7 linked regions of the Homo sapiens genome follow. Changing the gene in region 1 together with any one later gene gives a genetic interaction. Each region holds a gene or a part of one and is shown in the gene's direction. Other genes may lie near its edges.

Evidence for each region.
Region 2: changes in PTAR1 (region 1) and PPP2R2A are lethal when combined (synthetic lethality), as found in Homo sapiens cells (one study listed by BioGRID).
Region 3: changes in PTAR1 (region 1) and SLMAP are lethal when combined (synthetic lethality), as found in Homo sapiens cells (one study listed by BioGRID).
Region 4: changes in PTAR1 (region 1) and MARCHF6 are lethal when combined (synthetic lethality), as found in Homo sapiens cells (one study listed by BioGRID).
Region 5: changes in PTAR1 (region 1) and SPTSSA are lethal when combined (synthetic lethality), as found in Homo sapiens cells (one study listed by BioGRID).
Region 6: changes in PTAR1 (region 1) and PI4KB are lethal when combined (synthetic lethality), as found in Homo sapiens cells (one study listed by BioGRID).
Region 7: changes in PTAR1 (region 1) and SEC24A are lethal when combined (synthetic lethality), as found in Homo sapiens cells (one study listed by BioGRID).

The regions. Positions count from the first base shown.
Region 1 is NC_000009.12:69,725,512-69,729,011, reverse strand, and holds part of PTAR1 (protein prenyltransferase alpha subunit repeat-containing protein 1), read left to right. Parts: intron 1-3,500.
Region 2 is NC_000008.11:26,354,008-26,357,507, forward strand, and holds part of PPP2R2A (serine/threonine-protein phosphatase 2A 55 kDa regulatory subunit B alpha isoform), read left to right. Parts: intron 1-460; coding exon 461-626; intron 627-3,500. UniProt on the Homo sapiens protein: Substrate-recognition subunit of protein phosphatase 2A (PP2A) that plays a key role in cell cycle by controlling mitosis entry and exit. Involved in chromosome clustering during late mitosis by mediating dephosphorylation of MKI67.
Region 3 is NC_000003.12:57,857,309-57,860,808, forward strand, and holds part of SLMAP (sarcolemmal membrane-associated protein), read left to right. Parts: intron 1-424; coding exon 425-520; intron 521-779; coding exon 780-851; intron 852-3,390; coding exon 3,391-3,500. UniProt on the Homo sapiens protein: Associates with the striatin-interacting phosphatase and kinase (STRIPAK) core complex, forming the extended (SIKE1:SLMAP)STRIPAK complex.
Region 4 is NC_000005.10:10,437,195-10,440,694, forward strand, and holds the end of MARCHF6 (E3 ubiquitin-protein ligase MARCHF6), read left to right. Parts: 3' UTR 1-3,194; downstream 3,195-3,500. UniProt on the Homo sapiens protein: Endoplasmic reticulum membrane-associated E3 ubiquitin ligase that plays a critical role in mitigating endoplasmic reticulum stress, the regulation of cholesterol and lipid homeostasis, and ferroptosis.
Region 5 is NC_000014.9:34,452,241-34,455,740, reverse strand, and holds part of SPTSSA (serine palmitoyltransferase small subunit A), read left to right. Parts: intron 1-3,500. UniProt on the Homo sapiens protein: Component of the serine palmitoyltransferase multisubunit enzyme (SPT) that catalyzes the initial and rate-limiting step in sphingolipid biosynthesis by condensing L-serine and activated acyl-CoA (most commonly palmitoyl-CoA) to form long-chain bases.
Region 6 is NC_000001.11:151,320,917-151,324,416, reverse strand, and holds part of PI4KB (phosphatidylinositol 4-kinase beta), read left to right. Parts: intron 1-3,500. UniProt on the Homo sapiens protein: Phosphorylates phosphatidylinositol (PI) in the first committed step in the production of the second messenger inositol-1,4,5,-trisphosphate (PIP). May regulate Golgi disintegration/reorganization during mitosis, possibly via its phosphorylation.
Region 7 is NC_000005.10:134,651,785-134,655,284, forward strand, and holds part of SEC24A (protein transport protein Sec24A), read left to right. Parts: intron 1-3,500. UniProt on the Homo sapiens protein: Component of the coat protein complex II (COPII) which promotes the formation of transport vesicles from the endoplasmic reticulum (ER).

The DNA.
Region 1 (3,500 bases):
TTAGCATTGAATGAGACAGCAAATACTTTAAAGTGTTTGAAACAGTGCTTGGCACATGGTAAATGCTGAACAGATAGTAATACATACACACAACAATGCTATAGATTTTTTTCTTGTATTTTTTATAAAAGCATATATTTGTTTTCTAGTCAGAAAAAGGTTAAAGAATAAAGATTGATTAAAAGTAGTATAGGGTGGAATTATGACACTAATTTTCTATTTTATGTTCTCTCTGATGTCTGCATGCTTAAATAAACATTTAAGTAAATTTTAAAATATTTTTATATTTGAGGGTAGTGTGGCAGGAAAGATTCACAGTCAGGCAGTTTATTACTACTGGCAAATTACAAGTTTCACATAAAAAAAGCACATATAGTCATTTCTCCAAAAAACCTACCCACACCACCAATAAGGACATGAAAAGATATTCACCATCTTTACTATTAGGGAAATGCAAAGCAAAACCACAGGGAGTGAGATACCACTTCACACCAAAATACGGACAATAACAAATGTTGGTTAGGATGTGGAGAAACTGAAACTCTTATTTATGGCTGGTAAGAATGTAAAATGGTACAGCCACTGTGGAAAGCAGTTTGGCATTTCCTCAAATAATTAAACATAGAATCACTATATATTAATAAAACTATAGTTAATATATATCATATTCTTGGAGAAAAACATGCATTACCATATATGACCCTGTAATTCTGCTCCTAGGTATATACCCAAGAGAAGTGAAAACACATTCCATACCAAATCTTGTATGAGAACATTAATAGCCATATTATTTATAATAGCCAAAAAATAATACCTCACCTGAGGAATGGAAAACAAAATGTGGCGTATCCATGCAATAGAACATTGGCCATAAAAAAGGAAGGAAATACTGATACATGCTATAACGTGGATGAACCTTGAAAACATGCTGATTGAAAGCAGTCAGATTCAAGGCCACATATTGTATGATTTCATTTATATAACATGTTCAGAATAGGCAAAGCAGGTTAGTGGGTGCCAGAGGCTGGGGAGGAGGGAATGGGATGTAACTTCTAATAGGAATGGGGTTTTGTGGGGGTGGTGAAAACATTAGAAATTAGATAAGAGCAATGGTTGCACAATTCTGTGAATATATTAAAAACCACTGATTTATTTTTTCACTTCAAAAATGATTCTAAAGTACATTAGAGAGAATAAAGCTTAAAGAATAGCTGAGGAATTGTTGGGAAAAACAATAAAGAACACTCTACCATTAGATACTTACATGTTTATTAATAAGACAGAGTAATTAAAATTGTGATGCTATTTCAAAAATAGACTCAGTAATGGAACAGAATATAAAGTCCAGAAACAAATTCCAATACATAATATGTACATATTTCATTAATGATGAATATGGCATTTCACATAATTAGAGAAAGGATTCCCTGTTCAATTTGTGATGCTGGTAAAATTTATTGACTTTTTAGAAAATAGAAAGTTAGGTGGTTTTTTTTTTTTAATCTTAAATACCAAATTGAACTTTAAATGGAATAAAAACCTATATGAAGAAAAGAGACTCACATTATGCTAAGTGAAATAAGCCAAGCGCAGAAGGATAAATATTGCATGGTGTCACTTGTAGGTGGACTCTAAACAAGTTGAACTCATGGAAATAGTAGAATGGTGATTGCAGGAGTAGGGGTTGTGGTGGGGAACAGGGAGTTGCTGGTTAAAGGGTACAAAGTTTCCGTTAGGATGAGTAAGTTCTGGAGGTCTAATGGTAGAACATGGTAATTACTGTTAATAATGTATACCCAAAGATTTCTAAGAGCGTTATCTTAAATGTTCTTACCACAAAAAATAAAATACTTATGTGAGGTGATAGATAAGTTAATTCACTTGATGGTGGTAATCATTTCACAGTGTATACATAAAAACAATATGTCGTACATCGTATATATATATGTGTGTGTATACGTGTGTGTGTGTGTGTGTGTGTGTGTATATACACAATTTTAATTTGTCATTTATACTTCTTCAATAGACCTGAGGGAGAAAAGAAAAAAAAGAATTTTACTTGACTCCCAATCTTTAAAAAAAAAAAAAGAATTTAAAAAATCAGTTGCAGTAATATATCGAAAATAATATTTATAACACATATGACAAATAGAGACTTAATATCTTTAATATGTAAAGACCTCTTACAAACTCGTAAGAAAAATAATGACTATCACAAATAGTAAATTAGATAATTCATAAAAGTAGAGAATTAGGCAAAATAGGCAGTTCATAAATGAAGAAGCAAAGGAAAAGTAATCACACAAGAAAAGATATTTAGGCTTAATGATAATTAAGGAAATGTAAATTAAAATGAAATGTGATTCTTATTAGTGAAGATTAAAGTATTGATGATGAATTTAGGAAATAAGCATTAACATGTACTTCCAATAGGAGTATAAATTATACAGTCTTTCTGCAGGACACTTTATATATCAAGAACTTTATAAAGTTTTTTTCTTTGTTCCAGCAAGTATATTTCTACAAATTTCTCCTAAATAATTAGATATGTACATAGATTTATTTATGAGTGTTACTTATACAAGAGTAGAAACAAACACAGGAATGGTTAAATTCTGTTAATCTTGAGGGTGAAATATTTTACGAGTTAAAAATTATAGAATAATATTTAATGCCATAGGAATGTATTTATAATTGAAGTAGAATAAAATTGGTACAAAAGAATATCCCAGATTTTTCTTAAAAATAAACTCTGTGCATGTGCATACATAGAAAAAAACCTGAAAGATTTGTTTTCTGCCAGAATGTTACAAGTAGTGATCTCTGGCCAACAAAATAATGGATGATTTTTGTTTGCTTTTTTATATTTTCCCATATTATTGGAATTTTCTATATTGATCATTTTGTATCACTTTTATAATCAGAAGAAAACCCAAATACTATTTTTAAAAGTTTAAAGGACCTATGGCATATGTATTTTTAGTAGTCTTTCATTTTTAGCACGTTATCCCTCTTTTTCATAGCCCTGCATTTGCAGTTTTCTTGTAGTTTATTTATTCACTTATTCATGTTTTCATATGGAAGTAGGAAAAGAAAGATATTTAACGTATATCATACGAAGGTCATTTATCCCATCAGTACTGTACATTAAAGCCATATCTTCATATAGTATCTTTAGATCACTTAAAAGTTAACTGGATCACTTAAAAGTAATTGCTGTCTTTTTTAAAAAAATCATTGCCTCTATCTTTATATCTTTTTATTCTAACAAGAGAATACCCTGAAATTCCAGTTAAAGTTTCTAATATGCATCTTTATATCTTAGGGAAAAGAATATAGTGGATTTTCTCTTTAAAAGCCTAAGAATTTTTTTAAGAAATTGATTTTGTTGAAAATATATATATATATTTTTTTTCTTTTTTGAGATGGAGTCTTGTTTTGTCGCCCAGGCTGGAGTATAGTGGAGCAATCTCGGCTCACTGCAACCTATACCTCCCAGG
Region 2 (3,500 bases), on another chromosome or scaffold:
GGACAATACATCATATTAAATAACAGATCGGGGAGTTGACCCTAAAGTGGGCATAGGAAGAAGGTGTGCCTCACCTAGCTCTTTCTGGGCAAGACTTTATCATTATTTTTAGATGAACTTCCTTATTATGGGTGCTCAGTTTTTTTTCATCAGTTTTTTTCATAGACTATACCATCAAATACATAAGAGTAAATTAGCAATCAAATTGATCCATATTTAACGTCATTATTTCCCTAATGAATTGAGCTTATTTATTCAGCTTTATTTAGCCTTTTCCCCCGTTAAGTTTTCTCATTTAATCCTTGAAGGCCTTTAGAAATATAAAAAACAGAATGTAATTGTATAAAGACACAACTAATGGGGTATTGAGAATGTGCAGGGTCCTTTGGAATTGATTACATATTTGATTATTTTGAAATATTTTTCAACAATGGTCCATATATTTTTGTTTTCATTTTAGAACAAAATCCAGTCTCATAGCAGAGGAGAATATAATGTTTACAGCACCTTCCAGAGCCATGAACCAGAGTTTGACTACTTGAAAAGTTTAGAAATAGAAGAAAAGATCAACAAAATTAGGTGGTTACCCCAGAAAAATGCTGCTCAGTTTTTATTGTCTACCAATGGTAAGTATACATATTTTCTTTCCATGTGCCCACTGTGTGTACCTGTTGCACATATCCTGTAGCCTAGGAGAGGAATCATTTAACAGAGATACTTGTAAAAAGGACTTTTGTTTTTCTATACAGAATGTAAACTCTACTTTTTTACTGTCACTTGCAGTTTTTAGATTCTCTGAAAGATTCTCTGATAGCAATTTTTTGTTTACTACACCTCCAATTTGTAGTGAAAAGAATGGGCTGCTATACCATTGGATTTAGGTCAGGTAATATTTCTGTCATTTCTCAGTCTCGTAATCTTGGGCAGGTTACTAACACTGAATTGAATTTTCCTCAGCAGCAAACTAGAGATAGCAATTTTTTATTATAGTATTATTATGAATATTAAATAACTTCACATACATCATGAGTGCAAGTGCTCAATAAATGTTAATTTATTCCTCCTTTTTAAGTGTTTGTAAACTACACAGAGTATCTCAAACTGCAGATACAAAATACTCAAAGGATGGTCTCCATTCCAGGATACGCTATAGGAGAGCACTTTCTTACTTGATCACCATTAGCATATTGCCTTCTTCCCAGCAATCCACATGGCTGGAAGGAGATTCCTCTCCTACTGTTTACTTGCCAAGGGAACATTTTTTGTTGTTTTTTGAGACAATGTCTGTCGCCCAGGCTGAAGTGCATTGGTGTAATCACAGCTCACTGCAGCCTCGACCTCCCTACCTCAGTCTCCTGAGTAGCTGGGACCACAGGTGAGTGCCACCACACCCGGCTAATTTTTTAAAAACATTTTTGTAGAGACTGGGTCTCCCTATGTTGCTCAGGCTGGTCTTGAATTCCTGGGCTCAAGCAGTCTGCCCCGCTCAGTCTCCCAAAGTGCTGGGATTACACGTGTGAGCCACTATGCCTGGCCCAGGAAAAGTTGAGTGAGGATTAAAAGTTAGTAATGACAGGCCGGGCGTGGTGGCTCACGCCTGTAATCCCAGCACTTTAGGAGGCTGAGGCGGGTGGATCACGAGGTCAGGAGATTGAGACCATCCTGGCTAACATGGTGAAACCGTGTCTCTACTAAAAATACAAAAAAATTATCCGGGTGTGGTGGCGGGTGCCTGTAGTTCCAGCTACTGGGGCGGGGGTGCTGAGGCAGGAGAATGGGGTGAACCTGGGAGGCAGAGCTTGCAGTGAGCCGAGATCGCGCCATTGCACTCCAGCCTGGGCAACAGAGCGAGACTCGTCTCAAAAAAAAAAAAAAAAAGTTAGTAATGACTCTACCAGAATTTGAAATCCTTTATGATGAGTTGGGTGCTTTCTCTTTGTTCTTATGAAAAACTTTTTCCTGTGAATTGTTTGGACTTTGTTGGGGTCTTGAGTCTAAAGGGAATCATTAGAGTGACTGAGGAGATACTTTAGTTTCTGGGTAGCCGTAGTCTATAAAAATTTGTGATTAAAACTTTTTTGAGGTTGGTGCTAGGGTGAGGGGAACCTCTTATTTTCTCATCCCCTCACTATTAATTTAAAAAGCAAATTCTAACACCTAGACCATAAACATTTGCAGAATATATACTTAAATGACTTCAGGATGAAATGGGGGAAGAAATTCAGCACTTCCTCCATCTAATTGATGCCCCTCGTCCACAGTATTAGTTCTTAGAAATGCTGTTCACAAATGCCTGATGGCCATCAGCGTTGGCCGCCTCCTGGGTGCCCGTTTTTCTGATCATGAAAGCTTTCCCCAGCCAGTCCATTGAGATGCGTACCCTCTGCCTTCTCTGTTTTCACAATAGACTGCATTCCCCTCTCTTGTCCTTATTAGAAGAAAAATAAAGAGAAGTAACTATTTAAAGCCTGTAAATCACAGCACTATGGGTGGAGGGAACAGTTTATTCCTGTCATATGCTAGCTTCTAGTCTTGGGTCAGTTTTAATTTATATGGTAAACTAAGTTATTTCAAATAGCTTCAAATATTTTAGACACTGTTCTTTGGCATCAGATGATACATAATTAAACCATTTATATAATTTCTACTTTTAGAAGTAAATGTTCCTAGGGAAATGTGTTGTTAACATTTTATATATTGGAATATTTTTATGTCAGTTTATTTCTTATAGGGCTACATCAGCTTTCTTATAAAGAGAACTTTTTAAATGTAGGCTGAGTTCAAGAGAATAGTATAGTGAAGCCCTGCATGCTCATCATCCACTTCTGACACTCCTCAGTTCATGGCTAATTTGTGTCTCGGATCCTTCCCCTTCCCCTCCTCCTCAGTGTTATTTCGAAGCAAATCCGATTACAACGTCTATGGATTAAATCTTGTTTAAAGACATTAGAGAATGCATTGTAGATTTTTGTCTTTTGTTTCTTAATACTAAGTAAAATACAGCTAACTGGGGGCTGCATTTTTTAATGCTAAAATAAGTGCTTAATAATAGAGTCCAATGTGGAAGGATAAAGCAGATTATGAGAATCATATGAACTGTTGTGTCTGGGTAGATGGGAAAAGGATGGGAGGAGTAGGACTTGAACTATATCTGAAAAACTATTTGGAAAGAAGGAGACTTAGAGAAAAATGTCAACATCTGTTGATTCTGAGTGATATCTTTTATATTATTTTGTGTATTTTTCTCTGTGAGTTTTTTCTGTGAGCATAGTAACACCCCCCCCCCCCAATATAATGGGTCTATATAAAAACTATATCTGTGGGAGAATGATGGAAAATAGTACCAAACTTTCCAGGTTTGATTAACCAAAATTAATCTTATAAAAATATTTGCATTGGCTTTCCATGATCATTATATGAACTGGGTTTCCCAGATCATTTTTACTTAAAGGACGTCATAGTCACCTTATAACTTGAGTTAATTTAATGTTCCTTCAAGC
Region 3 (3,500 bases), on another chromosome or scaffold:
AGTAGATGCCTGAAATCACAGATAGTACCAAACCCTATATCTACTATGTTTTTTCCTATATATACACATACCTATGATAAAGTTTGACTTATAAATTAAGCATAGTAAGAAATTAACAATAATAATAAAATAGAACAATTACAACAGTATACTGTTATGTGAATAAAAGTTATGTGAATGTCAACATTCTGTCTGTCTCTCTCAAAATATCTTGTACTGCACTATAACTGAAACTGTGGAAAGGGAAACCAGAGATAAGCGGGGACTGCTGTATGTTTTACAAAGTACTATCAAGTTTCACTACTTTAAAATACATCAAGTGGGATGTAATATGAAAATATTTTAGAATATGCTGAAAATTGATCACTCCTCAAAAGAATCATGATGAGCTTATTAGAATCTGTTTTGTGATTTGTAATACTAGGAGGCCTTACATCGGGAACAAATGTTGGAACAGAAGTTAGCCACGCTTCAGCGGCTACTAGCCATCACCCAAGAGGCTTCAGATACCAGTTGGCAGGTATTCCAGTTGTTTTATATTTAAGAAACATTTAAACATAGTTTAATATTCCATACATGTTAAATAAACTAAAATGTAGCAAACAAAGACAAAGTTATTTCCTAACTAATGAACAAGTTGTTGAAGATTTAGCATTTTACAGTGGATGCTGGTCAGTTTTACGCTTTTATATCTTTTGTTGTCAGTAGCAACCTTTTTTTATATACATGTGACTTTATAATTACTCGGGTTTTACTTACATTTAATTTTTCTTCAATAGGCTTTAATAGATGAAGATAGACTCTTATCACGGTTAGAAGTTATGGGAAACCAATTACAGGCATGCTCCAAAGTAGGTATTAACCTCAAATGTGTAAAATGAAATGCATAGTTTTTTATGTAACATCATTTCTTTGACTATCATTTTGAGTATATGCTAAAAACTTCATACATTTCCACAATTCTTTTAAATCTTTTGTGCTGAGAAACGTCAGACATCCATGTAAATAAAAATAATTACATAATGAATACCCATGTACAAGTCTGTCTTTTTTCTATTGCAGTTAATATTTCTTGAAAAAACTGGGTCATTTGTCCTCTAGAATTTCCCTCAGTCTGCATTGTTATTTAAACATTTTTTAGCTCCCCCTCCCACTCCATAAAGTAGTAGTTCCATCTAGAGATTTGATGTGATTTAGGTTCAGTTTTTCTTTTTGTCAACAACACTTTATGGATGGTATTGTGTTCTTCCACCAAGGGACAACATAATGTCTAGTTGTCTTTCTTTTTGAGATTTTTATCAATCATTGATGATCCCAGGCTAGATCCATTATTTCATTACGGTTACAAATAAGGCTGGGCGCAGTGGCTCACACCTATAATCCCAGCACTTTGGGAGGATGAGGCGGGCGAATCACCTGAGCTCGAGAGTTCAAGACCAGTCCAACCGACATGGAGAAATCCCATCACTACTAAAAATACAAAATTAGCCGGGCATGGTGGCACATGCCTGTAATCCCAGCTACTCAGAAGGCTGAGACAGGAGAATCCCTTGAACCCAGGAGGCAGAGGTTGCAGTGAGCCAAGATCGTGCCATTGCAATGTAGCCTGGGCAACAAGAGTGAAACTCTGTCTCAACAACAACAACAACAACAAAAAAGTTACAAAAATAATGATGTAATTCTGTTATTCCTTCACTTATTTAGCTGGGTTACTTCTATAAAGAGAAGTTTCCTTCCATACACAGTGGCTCATGCCTGTAATCCTAGCACTTTGGGAGGCCAAGGCAGGCGGATTGCTTGAGGTCAGGAGTTCAAAACCAGCGTGGCCAACATGGCGAAACCCCGTCTCTACTAAAAGTACAAAAATTAGCTGGACATGGTGGCATGTACCTGTAATCCAAGCTACTCAAGAGGCTGAGACAGAATTGCTTAAACCCGGTGGGGGTGGAGGTTGCAGTGAGCCAAGATCGCACCTCTGAACTCCAGCCTGGGCGACAGAGCGAGACTGTCTCAAAAAAAAAAAAAAAAAAAGCGGGGGCAGTTTGAGACCAGTATGGGCAACATGGCAAAACCCAGTATCTACCAAAAATTAAAGATTTGCTTAGCATAGTGGTACATAACCTGTAGTCCTAGCTACTCGGGAGGCTTAGGTGGAAGGATCGCTTGAGCCCAGGAGTTTGTGATTACAGTGAGTTATGATCGCAGAACTGCGCTCCAGCCTTGGTGACAAAGAGAGACCCTGTCTCTAAAAAAACGAAAAAAGGAAAAACAATGGCCATTGTTTTTTGTAACTTTGGCATCAAAAACCAAATACCACATGTTCTCATTTATAAGTGGAAGCTAAGCTATAGGTATGTAAAGGCATAAAGAGTGCTATAATGGACATTGGAGACTCAGAAGTTGGGAAAGTGAGAGGGGAGTGAGGGATGAAAAACTCCCTATTGAATACAATATACACTACTCAGGTAATGAGTGCACTAAAACCCCAGACATCACCACTACATAATTCATCCATGTAACCAAAAACCACTTGTATCTCTAAAGGTATTGGAATAAAAAAATTTAAATAACCCTGAGGTATGTTTTCTACGGGGAAAGCAAGATAAGTGATTTTCTCCCCTTATTTATTAGATTTCAGAATAATGAATTGGTGGTTTTTCATCTACCAAAGACTGGCCATGAAGTGTTTTCTCACTCCACTTAGATTTAAACATATTTGATGTATTTAAATCTGGTGCAGTTGTTTTTCTTGTTTTAGAGACAGGGTCTTGCTATGTTGCCCAGGCTGGTCTTGAACTCCTGGGCTCACGCAATCCTCCCATCTCGGCCTCCCAAAGTGCCACGGCCAGCCTATTTTTCTTATTGATGCTCAAATTATCCCATCTTTGGTCTGTGTAAATGTCTTCAGAGTGATAGCTTCATGCTGTCATTTCAGACAAGATGTTTCAGGCTCATTTTGTACTTTTCCTGCCCCAGACATGAAGTCTGCTTTTCCCCCATGGTACTCTTATTCCTTTTGTTTTAACCATTGTTTCAGAATGCTTGGTGCCTTTGAAGGTAATTGATTATTTTTGCCTACAAATGTGAATATGGTGGCTTGCAGAAAATATGACAAATATAAAAGTAACTAATTTTGTATATTTTAGGGAAATTCTCAATTGCCTATAACTTTTTTTTTCTATAGGAAGTGGAAATTAGTAAGTTTGTGAAGGCATAATTTACTTATGCAACTTGTAAATACATCTTTAGTTAATACAGGGCCAGAATCATTTATGTTTGGAGGTACCTTAATATATAATTTAAAGTATATCATAATGTGTTAATTTTTTTCAAACAATAAATGCTTTTAAAAAATAACTTGTCTATAATTATAAATATCTTTTATTGTAGAATCAAACAGAAGATAGTTTACGAAAGGAACTTATAGCATTACAAGAGGATAAACATAACTATGAGACAACAGCCAAAGAGTCCCTGAGGCGGGTTCTTCAGGAGAAAAT
Region 4 (3,500 bases), on another chromosome or scaffold:
CTTATTTTCATTTTCAGGGTTGAGTACTCTAAGCTCTCTACTTACTGTGAGAAGTTTTCTACATTGTAAAATTAAAAGATTATATTTAAAATACTTCTTTAGGATGTTATTCAGCCATCAAAAAAAAACCCAACTAAAATGTCTTACCAGTAAAGTATTATTAAAAGCCTCATTTGTGGAGATTCGCTGACTTCCTTGGTTAAGCTGTCTTGTATTTACTTAATTTGTCCCCTCAACCAGGTGTTTTCTTTTCAGCCTGTTACTGTCCTGTGCCATTTTTAAAAATAGCCATCATGAGTAAGGGCTTCTTTAAAATAATCCCTGACAATATCTTTGGCATTAATACGACATAAAGACAAGACAGTATATGTATGTTTTCATTCCTGTTTTGTACGAGTGCCTCATTTTGTAGTCATGAAAGTAACATAGTACCTTAAATAAAAATGTAATGACTAATCTAAGGTCTAGGAATAACTATTGTAGAAGCTAAGTAGAACACTTAGTTTGGGGTGTCAATTTTCTATCAACGCAAACACCTTAGGGTACCCAGACCAATTTTATGTATATATATTCTGAAATGCTCCCTTTTTAATGTGGTCATTTGTTGCCTTCTAAGTTGAGAGGACAAAACTGAATAAAGTGAATGTTAATTGTAGTCTAGTTTTTTTGTTTGTTTTTGTGTTATTGCAAGATTGCTTTAAGATTGCAGAAATATGCATTATTAGCCAGCATAGATAATCCAGATGTTATAATAGGAAGGAAAAACAACTCCAGTTAAATGTGACTGTGGCGACTCCCTTTTATGTATACATTTAAATGCATAGTTGCAGAGGACACATCCCTCCCCTTCTGTCTCCCTAACTTGAACTGTAGACCGTCCTCACTGGGAAGAGTAAGGCCCCACATTTTGTGCAATAGCAAGCTACTGCCCACTTCTGCATGTCTGCTACGAGATCAGAAAGTCAGTTTCACTAAGGTTGTCTTTTAGCTGAATACTTAGAGTAAAACCAATCAAATCCATTGTACATACCTGACCATATGTCCCAGATAAAAAGGAAAGACTTGCGTGATGTTTTTTTCCTTCTGAGTGCCCTGAGGAGATCCTTTTGCTTCAGACTATTTCTAATTTTTCTTTGTTTATAGGTTCAGAATTTTTTCCATGATTGTTTTCCCCCAAACAAGTGCATTTTTAATTACTTTAAATGCAGGGGTGATAGAGGAAATGCTATTCGAACCATAGACATCTTTAATCTGTGAAGCTGAAATTTTTCAGCAAAGGAAATTGCATGGTCAAGTTCAGAAACTGGCCATTAATTTCCCCCTTCCGCTCCACAGTTCATAGCTACTCTTGTTGCAAACATGTAGTGATAAGGAGAACTAACGTATCAAGGGGCTGAGAGGGTAACGTTCCCCTCCTCCTCCATGTTTTTATTTTGGTGTCTGTTTTGTTTCTAGCACTGTATTTAGTACTGTAGTTGAATGAGGTATGATGTCTCCCTTCAAGGAACTCAGAATGGAACAGAAGCATGAGCAAAAGATTGTATTACAGAGGTATGAATAAAATGCCATGGGGAACACAGAGAAAGGTTCACCCGGGAGAGATGGCCTAGCCACTTCCTTAGTGACTGTTTGGTATATGTAGGTCCCCCTGCCATTACTCTTTCAGCCTTCTGCAATCTAGTTCTACTTAGTCACACACTTCTCTAAGACCACTCATACGTAAACACTACGTAGAGGCCCCTTTTTGCCTCATTTTACATTGTTTAGTTATCATTTTGAAACTTTTCTTCACATATGTAACAGTGCCGGAGTTTTTCTGCTTCTCTGTGTTTGTTCAGTAACTCTTCTTTAGGATACACCTAAAGATGAGAAGCTTCATACCCAGTACTCCTCTTCATTCACTCATATGTTTTTGGGATCAGTCCCTTCTGCTGGCTGTGCATTGGTCTAATGGAACAGAATAGAGTCCAGAAATAACCCAACATGTATGTGGACAACTGGTTTTTGACAGAGGTGCAAAGGTCTTGAAAAAATGATGCTGGAATAATTGGGCATCAGATGCAAAATTAAAAACAAATTGATCCATATCTTAACACTGGCAAAGATTAAAGTCCAAATGGATTATAGTTCCCCAAAACTGTATAATTTCTAGAAGACAACAAGGAAAACGTGTTCAGCCTTGGGTTAGGAAAAGATTTCTTAAATCCAACACCAAAAGCACAATCCATGAAGGAAAAATCGATAAATTGTACTTTATCAAAATTGAGAACTTCTCTTTGAAAGGTACCATAAGGAGAACAAAAAGACAAGCTGTAGAGTGGCAGAAAAATATTTGCAAAACATTTCTGATAAATGAGTTGCATCTAGATTACATAAAGAAGTCTCAAAACTGAACAAGTAAACCCATTGTTTACTTAATCGCTGTTTCTCCTGAGCTTGCTGCCTCTGCCCCTGCTCTCTCTCCTTTTCCATTTGTTTTCAACATTGAATCCAGAATGTTCTTCTTGAGATCCAAGTCAGATCACACCAACCCTCAGAACTCTCCAATAGACGACCATGGCACTCAAAAGTCCACAATAGCCTTCAATGCTGGGCAAAACATGAAGCACCCCTTTTCTCCCTTCTCTGACCCCATCACCTCTGTGTTCACCCTGCTCCTGCCGTCCTCCCTGCCTCCAAAACAGGTCAGGCCTTCGTGCCTTTGCACTTACTATTTGCAATACCCAAATGTTCTTCAGGCTCTTTAGCCTCTTCATTTCTTTCCTGAAGTGTCATTCTCACTGAGGCTTATCTAAAGCTGCAGCTACTGGGGCATTCCTGTCTCATCTCCCTGCTGTATTTTGTACTCCCGGCTCTCTTTTGTACTTTTAAACATACTATATGGTTTACCTTTGTTGTTTATATTTGCATGTTGTTTCCCACTTGAATGTAAGCTCCAAAGATTTTATTTTTTTAAACTGAATTATTACTGTATTCCCAGAACAATTCCCTGGCAAATATTTGGTACTCAATAGTAATGCTAAGTTAGTAAATAAATGATGAATTTAGAATCAAAATAATGTGTCTATGGCCAAAATAAAACCTGAAATCCCTGTCCTATTTCCCAGAGGTAACTGCTGTTAATAGTTTAGTTGTGTGCTTCCAGACATACCTTCACAGAATCATTTATCACAATAAAGGTGTCATACTATGCAGATTGTTTGACAAGATGCTTTTTTTCACTTTACACGGGCATCTTTTCATACCATTGTGTGGCCAGGCCATGATTTGTTTTCCAAAAGACATTTACCCAATTTATATGGTGAAGATTTTTGTCCATATTACTTTTTATAGTATTTCTGTAGGGTAAGTTCCCAGAAGTAATATTGCACGATCATCGAAAAATTTTAGTGTTACATTACTGCCCCATAAAGGTACTAATTAACATCCCTCTCAACAACATAGAAGATTCCTTTTTTTTTTTTTCTTTTTTTGGGTGGAGGGGGGCGGGGACAGAGTCT
Region 5 (3,500 bases), on another chromosome or scaffold:
AGGCTGTTCTTGAACTCCTGACCTCACGTGATCCTCTCCCCTCAGCTTCCCAAAGTGCTGGGATTACAGGTGTGAGCCACCGCGCCTGGCCTAAAAGGACTTTTTTTGCATCTCAATATACTAATTAAAGTATTTGGGAGTTTGGAAAATATGAATTTTAAGTTGTAAATAAAATAGATTATACATCCTTATGGTTGAAAACACAAAAGATACAAAAAGGTAGTTGGTGACACAGTCTTCCTTCCACCCCTGCCTCGGCCACCCTGGGACAACCAGTGTCAGCAGTTTCCTATGCATCTCTCCTGAGATATTCTGTGAATATATAAAAAATATACTCCTTTTTTTTTTCTTTTTTTGAGACAGTTTCGCTCTTTTCCTCAGGCTAGAGTGCAGTGGTGCGAACTTGGCTCCTTGCAACCTTTGCCTTCTGGTTGCAAGCGATTCTCTTGCATCAGCCTCCCCAGTAGCTGGGATTACAGGTGCCCGCCGCCATACCCTGTTGATTTTTTGTATTTTTAGTAGAGATGGGGTTTCACCATGTTAGCCAGGGTGGTCTCAAACTCCCAACCTCGTGATCCGCCCACCTCGGCCTCCCAAAATGCTGGGATTACAGGTGTGAGCCACCTAGCCCGGCTCCTATTTTTTTTTTTTCTCAAGATGGAGTCTTGATCTGTTACCTAGGCTGGAGTGCAGTGGCGCAATCTTGGGTCACTGTAGCCTCCGCCTCCTGGGTTCAAGCAATTCTCCTGCCTCAGCCTCACGAGTAGCTGGGATTACAGGTGCCTGCCACCACACCCGGCTGATTTTTGTATTTTTAGTAGAGAAGGGGATTTACTATGTTGGCCAGCCTGGTCTCGAACTCCTGACCTCAGGTGACCCACCCACCTTGGCCTCCCAAAGTTCTGGGATTACAGGCATGAGCCACTGCACCTGTCTGGGAAATGAACAATTGTAAGATTAGGAAGTAATGTGGGAGAAGTGAATACATTTATAAGGGAGGATGGGAAGGACAACCAGCAAACCACAAGAATTCTCAGACAGATCAAGCTCTGGGAGTACGGTGGAAGCAGACCACCTTTAACCGGATTCTCCTTAAACTATCCTAACCTCCTGGAAAGTTGTCTTGTTAACTCCAGGGCCCTACTGCTTTAGTTTGAAGAAAACTGCTCTAGCCTGTTTAACATGTTAGCCTTTATATTTGGCTGATTCAGTGAGAATGTTAGGATATCTCTTAACTGTACTCCTTAGAATATTAACTTTTTCTTTAGTAGTTTTTGGTTGGTAAAGGTTGAAAATAATGAAAACTGTGCTTAACAAGAACTAAATGGTCTATACCAGGACAGGCAGAGAAAGTCATGGTTGGGTTAATGGCAGTGGGAACAGACCACACATTGATATTCTGCAGCAGTGTTTCAGCATGTGATTCTAGTGATTTGTGAGTAGTGATCACTATAGGTCCTGTCTCCATTTTCTTAAAGACTTTGTGATTCCTCCAGACTATGAGTGTTGTAACATTTATGGCACATAGGAGCTAAGATAGATTTTTTTTTCCCCCTAAAACAGGGTCTTGCTCTGTTGCCCAGGCTGGAGTTCAGTGGCTGGCATGATCTTTAGTTCACTGTACCCTTGAACTCCTGGGCTTAAGTGATCTTCCCGCCTCAGCTTCCCAAATAGTGGGGACTACAGGCACACACCACCATGCCTGATTAATTTTTAAATTTTTAGTAGAGACAGGGTCTCACTAGGTTGCCTAGGTTGGTCTTGAACTCCTGGCCTCAAGCAGTCCTCCTGCCTCAGCTTTCCAAAGTGCTCGGATTACAGGTGTGAACCATCGGACCTGGCCTCTTTTTTTTTTTAAAAGAACAAACCCCAAATGCTCAAATTTAGTAATTTAAGCTATGTGTTCTAGAAGATGTACTTGATAGAGGATATATACTTTTTATAAATTGGAATGTTGAAAAAATAGTAGTTATGATCAATAGTTATGAGAAATAGAAGTTTTACTAATACAAGCGTTTTGGTCAGCATGTATTATATATGTTTCTGAAAAACTGCAAAATAATATGGTTTATAGGAAAATATTATTGAGTCAGACCACTTAAAATGTATGCAATTTAGTAAGCAAGCACTAACAAACACAATACTTGGCATCTTGAGGGAATAACTTGGATGTCCCAGACAGGCAGGCAGCTCAGCTTCACTGGAAGCTGCCCGAGGGGACATGAACAAAGCATGGACAAAGTTGAATGGAAATGTCAGCAGTAGGTGCTGATGTAATACAGACAGTGTGGGCTGCCATTGAGGCAGTGTAGGGCCAGTGCCACCTGCCACATTGGCTGAGAGCTGTGCTACCCTGGAGGTGCCTTTCTCTGAAGAGGGAGACTGGGTACAAATGCGAATTTCTGATTTTCTTAAAATAGAGTTAAAAGGACTTCTGCCTGTATAGCAGCTGAGTTGAGAGATGTTTCCTGCAGAAGGTGATACAGTTGACCCTTGATCCACTTGGGGGTTAGGAGTACTGCCCCCAGGCCCTCATCCTCACCCTGCAGGCAGTTGAAAATCTGTGTACAACTTTTGACTCCCCAGAAACTTTACTAATAGTCTACTTTTGACTGGAGCCTTATTGATAACATTAACAGTCGATTAACATATTTTGTATGTTATATGTATTATATACTGTATTCTTATAGTAACGTAAGCTAGAGGGAAGAAAATCATAAGGAGGAGGAGGAGGGGTTGGTCTTGCTGTTTCAGGGGTGGCAGAGGCAGAAGAAAATCCATGTATAAGTAGACCTGCACAGTTCAAACCCATGTTTTCAAGGGTCACCTAATTATTTTCCCACTAATCTGCTCCCCTAAATGATGAAATATCCCATATGAAGGAATATAGCTCCTGTACTGTACTAGTCGTATGTGAGTTATCTGATGTTACAGAAACATGTACTGTAGCAGAACAGATTATAATTCAGAGCAGACTGGGAAATTTTTCCCCATAACACTGGGACTTCAAATCTTCCTGAGGGTAATAGAAGCTCAAATCAATAAATGTGTGCCAGAGACACTATAACCTTAGTGTCTCTGGGATTAGAGCTACAAACCATTTCCAGGATTTTAGTCCACAGTGAAAAATTTTCAGTCCGTGATCATTACTCATTTCAGCAGCATGCTTTGTTGTTTGTTTAGTTTTAAAAGAGCTTGTCATCAAGTTGTAGTTTCTAAAAACAATTTTCATACTTAGGTTTGTATAATCAGCACACTATAGAAAGCTTAGAGAATGGATTTTGCTTGCTAAACACTAATTTCTGATGGTGATGTGCTATCCTTTAACATGACCCTTGAATATCAAATTGGTTAACATACAGAGGACTGTGACAGTATAATATTGTGACAGTATAATATTTTCCACTTGTTTCAATGTAAGAAAACTGGAAAAGTATCAAGAGATAGTTGATATATCTAGGAAAAATTAACTTTCTTTTTTTTTTTTTTTTTTTTGAGAT
Region 6 (3,500 bases), on another chromosome or scaffold:
TGAGGTCAAAGGGGAGAGATGAGTTGAGACATCCTTAAAGAAAGGTTTGAGTTAGACATTAAGACATGAGGAGGAACTCCTCAACAGCAGAACAGGCAGTCAAAGATGATATGGAGTCTCTTTTGAGGAGCAACCTCTCTTTAAAAATTATTTTTGGGCTGGGCACCGTGGCTCATGCCCGTAATCCCAGCACTTCGGGAGGCTGAGGTGGGCGGATCACTTGAGGTCAAGAGTTGGAAACCAGCCTGGCATGTTCGAGACAACATGGTGAAACCCCATCTCTACTAAAAATACAAAAATTAGCCAGGTGTGGTGGCGTGTGCCTGTAATTCCAGCTACTCGGGAGGCTGAGGCAGAGAATCACTTGAACCTGAGAGGCAGAAGTTGCAGTGAGCTGAGATGGCGCCACTGCACTCCAGCCTGGGTAACAGAGCGAGACTCCATCTCAAAAAAAAAAAAATTTTTTTTTGAAGGAATGCATGCATTTGGTAACAAATCCAATGGTACTCAAAGAGTTTATGAAGAAAAACAGCAGTCCTGTTTCCGTTCATCCCTACTCCTGTTCTCGCAGAGTTAACCTCCTTAATTATCTCAGTGTTCTGAAGGTTATCACCATAGCTTTAGATAAAATGCTTGTTCCTCTATTTCTTTGTTTTTTTGTTTGTTTTTGTTGTTGTTTTTGTTTGTTTGTTTGAGATGGAGTCTCGTTCTGTCGCCCAGGCTAGAGTGCAGTGGCACGATCTCGGCTCACTGCAACCTCTGCCTCAGGGTTCAAGCAGTTCTCCTGCCTCAGCCTCCCGAGTAGCTGGGATTACAGGTGCCCGCCACCACGCCTGGCTAAGTTTTTGTATTTTTTGGTAGAGATGGGGTTTCACCATGTTGGCCAGGCTGGTCACGAACTCCTGACCTCAGGTGATCCACCCACCCCGGCCTCCCAGAGTGCTGGGATTACAGCGATCTCAGCTCACGGCAACCTGCGCCTCCCAGGTTTAAGCGATTGTTCTGCCTCAGCCTCCCGAGTAGCTGAGATTACAGGCACCCGCCACCATGCCTGGCTAGTTTTTTATATTTTTTAGTAGAGACGGGGTTTCACCATGTTGGCCAGGCTGGTCACAAAGTGCTGACCTCAGGTGATCCACCCGCCTCAGCCTCCCAGAGTGCTGGGATTACAGGCATGAGCCACTGCACCTGGCCATTTGTTCCTCTATTTCTTTACTTATTGTTACAAACAAGGATTTAGCTTTAGAGGATATACCTCTCATTTATATAATTATGTCATTTTTATTTCTTCTACTGGACACCTGTATAACTTTAAATAATATTTAATATATTTGAACCTTTCTTTCTTTTCCATTAACTTTTGACAGTCTCTCTTAATTCACCTTGTAGAATGAACGTCAGATATTGGTTTCCTTACCCGTTTTTCCATCTCTTGTGGATCCATCTCAAAGGACTGTGAGATGTATAAAAAAAGGATAGAGGAGACTAGTTGTGGTGGCTCATGCTTTGTAATCTCAGCACTTTGGGAGGCCTAGGCGGGAGGGTAGCTTGAGGCCAGGAAGAAGCTTTCCTCCTTGGAAGCATCCCCAACCAGAAATCGTATAGTGAGCCATGATTCCACCACTGCACTCCAACCTGGGCAACAGAGTAAGAGCCTGTCTCTTAAGAAAGAAAAAGGAAAAAAATAAAAAGGCAAGGGGTGGGGAAATAAAGGATCCTTTAAAAGGAGGAAAATTGAGCCAGCCTGCCTGCTTGGAAGCAGGGCACTAGATCAGATGATCTCTTAAAGCCATTCTATGAAAATATAAGAACATAAAAATATCAGAATTGGTGCAAACCAATCCATATTTATCTAGTCCATGGAAAAAATTTTGAAAAAGAGAATGGTGATTAACTGGGTGAGGGGATTGATTTGGGGCTCTTTACCATTCTGTCCTAGCAGAGACTGATCCAATAAGTCCTTTAATGGAGGCCAGTAGAAAGTTGTTTGCCTGGAATCTTTTGAGGTGATAAGAAATGGGGAGCTAGGTTAAGCGATAGCATCTCCTCCCCAGAGAGTCCTCTGCAGACATGTATTTTAACTGCTCAGTCACACAGAACATATGTGTATATCTTCTGTGTCTTCTCCAGCTGCTGCTCTGTGTGACCTGTAACAATTCCTTGTCACTCAGACCAGAATTCCCTACTTTGCCCAGTTGGGAGCTGTGGAACTCAGTCAGTTGTCAACTTTTCCTAGGGGCCAGCTGTTAGGCTGTGGAACAGGGGAGGCCTCTTCCATTTCCCTTCCAGTCTGACTGGAAGGAGAATTTAGGTTCCCAGTGTGAAGTGTAGAGCCTCAGTTGTCTGAACCCCCTTGAAGGCCATAGGAGTCATTTAATATTAAAAATTTAGATTGTCTTCCGTCACTTTTTTCTTATTCCTCTGACTTAGAAGGGGAAGGCTGTTGAATACAGGACTTTTTCCTTCACCTTTTCTTTTGCTTTCCAGTCCTTTCATTTTCTTTAGAACAGTTACCCTCAAAGGCTTTTTTTTTTTTTTTTTTTTAAGACAGAGTCTCACTCTGTCGCCCAGGCTGGAGTGCAGTGGTGTGATCTCGGCTCACTGCAAGCTCCGCCTCCTGGGTTCATGCTATTCTCCTGCCTCAGCCTCCCAAGTGGCTGGGACTACAGGTGCCCACCACCATGCCCGGCTAATTTTTTGTATTTTTAGTAGAGACGGGGTTTCACTGTGTTAGCCAGGATGGTCTCCATCTCCTGACCTCGTGATCTGCCCTCCTCAGCCTCCCAAAGTGCTGGGATTACAGGCGTGAGCCACCATGCCCTGCCCACAAAGGCATATTTTCTTGGCATTCAAAACTAAATGAAGCAAGCTGGGCATGGTGGCGGGTGTCTGTAATCCCAGCTACTTGGGAGGCTGAGGCAGGAGAATCGCTTGAACCTGGGAGGCGGAGGTTGCGGTGAGCCAACATTGCGCCACTGCACTCCACTCCAGCCAGGGCAACAGAGCAAGACTCTGTCTCAAAAAAATAAATAAAATAAAAATAATAGTAATAATAAATAGCTAAAGCAATTTAACCCTATTCCCTACAACACCTTCTTCTCCATATGACTTGCTTCAGATGCAGGCAGTGCCTGGGTTCCTGAGAGGCCAGGGAAGAGACCCAGCTCCAGTTTGGTGGTTTCTAGTGGTAGAGCTGCTTATATAGGAGAGGAGTCTGTTTTTTCCTGCACCTCTCAACACTGTCTAGCTCCCTGAGGAGTAAAAGCTGCCGGGAGGGAGAGTCTGTTCAGTAGCAAAATCCTCTGAATACTGTGATGTGATTCTTAGCTGAGCCCTGGGAGTTTTTCTTTTGTCTGTGAGATAAAAGAGGTGATAGTATCCTTATTTGCCTTCCTGGTGCCAGTAATAATCCCAATCGTAGTTAATTGGGGCAGGCATCTGCTAAATTTTCTAGTGAGGTCTGAGACACTATTATGTGGGAGAATGTCTGAACTGTATTT
Region 7 (3,500 bases), on another chromosome or scaffold:
CTGCTAATAATACAGAGAGTAGGGATATGGTATCAAGTTGGAGAACAGGATATTTTTCAAGAAGGTGAGAAAACGTTTCAATGCTGGGATCTAGTTTTGCTTAACTATTCCAAAGCAGTAGTTGATGCTTGCATATTCTGTTGAAAACTCTTTTTTTTTTTTTTTTTGATGGAGTTTCACTTTTGTTGCCCAGGCTAGAGTGCAATGGCTCATTGCAACCTCTGCCTCCCAGATTCAAGCAATTCTCCTGCCTCAGCCTCCTGAGCAACTGGGATTACAGGTGCATGCCACCACACCCGGCTAATTTTTGTATTTTTAGTAGAGACAGGGTTTCATCACATTGGTCAGGCTGGTCTCAAACTCCTGACCTCAGGTGATCCGCCCGCGTCGGCCTCCCAAAGTGCTGGGATTACAGGCGTGAGCCACCGCGCCTGGCCGAAAAGTCTTAAGTATTTAATGAAGTTTGCTTAAATTACATATTACAGTATAATTAGATCTTCAGTTTGCTTTTGTTTTTTGTTTTTGAGATAGTCTTTCTCTATTGCCCAGGCTGGAGTGCAGTGGCGTGATCTTGGCTCACTGCAACCTCCATCTCCTGGGTTCAAGCAATTCTGCCTCAGCCTCCTGAGCAACTGGGACTACAGGCATGCGCCACTATGTCTAGCTAATTTTTGTATATTTAGTAGAGACGGGGTTTCGCCACGTTGCCCAGGCTGGTCTCGAACTCCCGAGCTCAGGTGATCCGCCCACCTCGGCCTACTAAAGTGCCGGGATTACAGGCGTGAGCCACTGTGCCTGGCCAGTTTGGTGTTTTTTGTTTTTGAGACGGAGTCTTGCTGTGTTGCCAGGCTGGAGTGCAGTGGTGCGATCTCAGCTCACTGCAACCTCCACCTCCCAGGTTCAAGCGATTCTCCTGCCTCAGCTTCCCGAGTAGCTGGGGTTACAGGCACCTGTAGCACATGCCACCATGCCTGGCTGATTTTGTATTTTGTTTGTTTGTTTTGTTTTGTTTTTGTTTTTGTTTTTTTGAGACGGAGTCTCACTCTGTCACCCATGCTGGAGTGCAGTGGTGCGATCTTGGCTCGCTGCAAGCTCCGCCTCCTGGGTTCATGCCATTCTCTTGCCTCAGCCTCCCGAGTAGCTGGGACAATAGGTGCCCGCCACCACACCCGGCTAATTTTTTGTATTTTTTTTTTTTTTTTAGTAGAGACAGCGTTTCACCATATTAGCTAGGATGGTCTCAATCTCCTGACCTCGTGATCTGCCCGCCTCTGCCTCCCAAAGTGCTGGGATTACAGTTATGAGCCACTGTGCTCGGCCTAATTTTTGTATTTTTAGTGGAGACGGGGTTTCACCATGTTGGCCAGGATGGCCTCTATCTGCTGACCTCATGATCCTCCTGCCTCAGCCTCCCAAAGTGCTGGCATTACAGGTGTGAGCCACCATACCCGTTCCAGTTTCGTTTGTTTGTTTGTTTTTTAAAGAGCCTGGGTCTTGCTCTGTCACCCAAGTTGAAGTGTAGTCACTTGATCATGGCTCACTGCAGCCTCGAACCTCCTGGCTGAAGTGATCCTCCCACGTCAGCCTCCTGTGAAGCTAGGACTACAGGCACATGCCCTGAAACCTGGCTAACTAAACAGTTTTTTTTAGAAAACAGAGCTGCACTCTGTTGCCCAGGATGGTCTTGAACTCCTGGACTCAAGTAATCCTCCTGCCTTGGCCTCCCAAAGAGCTAGGATTACAGGCATGAGCCACAACATCTAGCACAGATATTTTATATATTATAGTCAAAAGACCTCACCAGGTGTGGTGGCTCACACCTGTAATGTCAGCACTTTGGGAGGCCGAGGTGCTAGGATTGTTTTAGCCCAAGAATTCAAGACCACCCTCGGCAACATAGTGAGAACCTGTCTCTACAAAGAATTTTTAAAAAATAGGCATGGTGCGGGCCCAGTAGTCCCAGCTACTGGGGAGGCTGAGACAGGAAGATCACTTGACCCCAGGAGGTCAAGACTGCAGTGAGCTACAATTGCACAACTGCACTACAACCTGGGTGACATGGCAGTATCTTGTCTCAAAAATAAATAAATAGGCCGGGTGCAGTGGCTCACACCTGTAATCCCAGCACTTTGGGAGGCCAAGGCAGGAGGGCTGCTTGAGCCTAGGAGTTCAGACCAGGGTAGGCAACATAGGAAGACCCCATATCTATAAAAAAGTAAGAAAAATTAGTCCAGTGTAGTGGTGCCAGCCTGTGGTCCCAGCTACTCAGGAGGCTGAGGTAGGAGGATCACCTGTGTCCAGGAGGTTAAGGCTGCAATGAGCCATGATCATGCCACTACCCTCTAGCCTGGGCAACAGAGTGAGAACCTGTCACAAAAATAAATAAATTAATAAAAAACAAAAGACCTAACAGTAGCCTTTTTCAAAAAAAAAAAATATATATATATATTTTTTGAGACGGAGTCTCACGCTGTCACCCAGGCTGGAGTGCAGTGGTGCAGATCTTGGCTCACTGCAGCCTCTGCCTCCCGGGTTCAAGTGATTCTCCTGCCTCAGCCTCCCGAGTAGCTGGGACTACAGGCGTGCACCACCATGCTCAGCTAATTTTTGTATATTTAGTAGAGACGGGGTTTCACCATGTTGGACAGGGTGGTCTCAATTTCCTGACCTCGTGATCTGCCTGCCTTGGCCTCCCAAAGTGCTGGGATTACAGGCGTGAGCCACTGCGCCCAGCTGAGAGGTTTTTCTAAGTCTTTGTGTATACATATTTCCTTTGCAAAAATTGATAGCAGACTACAAGACCTTAAACTAATGGATCTTAATCTGATTATCATGTATTAACGCTAAAGGCAAATAATGACTCCCACCATTAATTAGTGCCTTTATTGACTGAATCAACTTGCAAAGCCAGTTAGAAACTGCAGTTTTGTTTTGTTTTGTTTTGGTTTTTCAGAAATGGTCTCACTTTGTCCCCCAGGCTAGAGTACAGTGGTGCAGTCTTGGCTCACTGCAGCCTTAACCTCCATGGTTCAAGCAATCCTCCTGCTTCAGCCCCTGAAGTAGCTGGGATTACAGGTGTGCGTCACCATGCTTGTCTAATTTTTTTGTGTCTTTAGTAGAGATGGGTTTCACCATTTGGCCAGGCTGGTCTCGAACTCCTGACCTCGTGATCCTCCCACCTTGGCCTCCCAAAGTGCTGGGATTACAGGTGTGAACCACTACGCCTGGCCCAGGCTTTCCTAAAGAAACGTACAGCTTTTTGGCCAGGCTGGTCTCAAAATCCTGACCTCAGGTGATCTGCCCGCCTGAGCCAAAGTGCTGAGATTACAGGTGTGAGCCACCGCACCCGGCCACATGAGATTTTTTACTAATGCAGATTCTGGGATCCTTTTGAATCCTATGAAATAGGATTTTACAAAGGTGGGACCTGGGATCTCAATTTGTACCATTATTATAGCAGGTTCCTCTGATTCTGAAGCTGCTGGTTGGGTGGGAAGCAC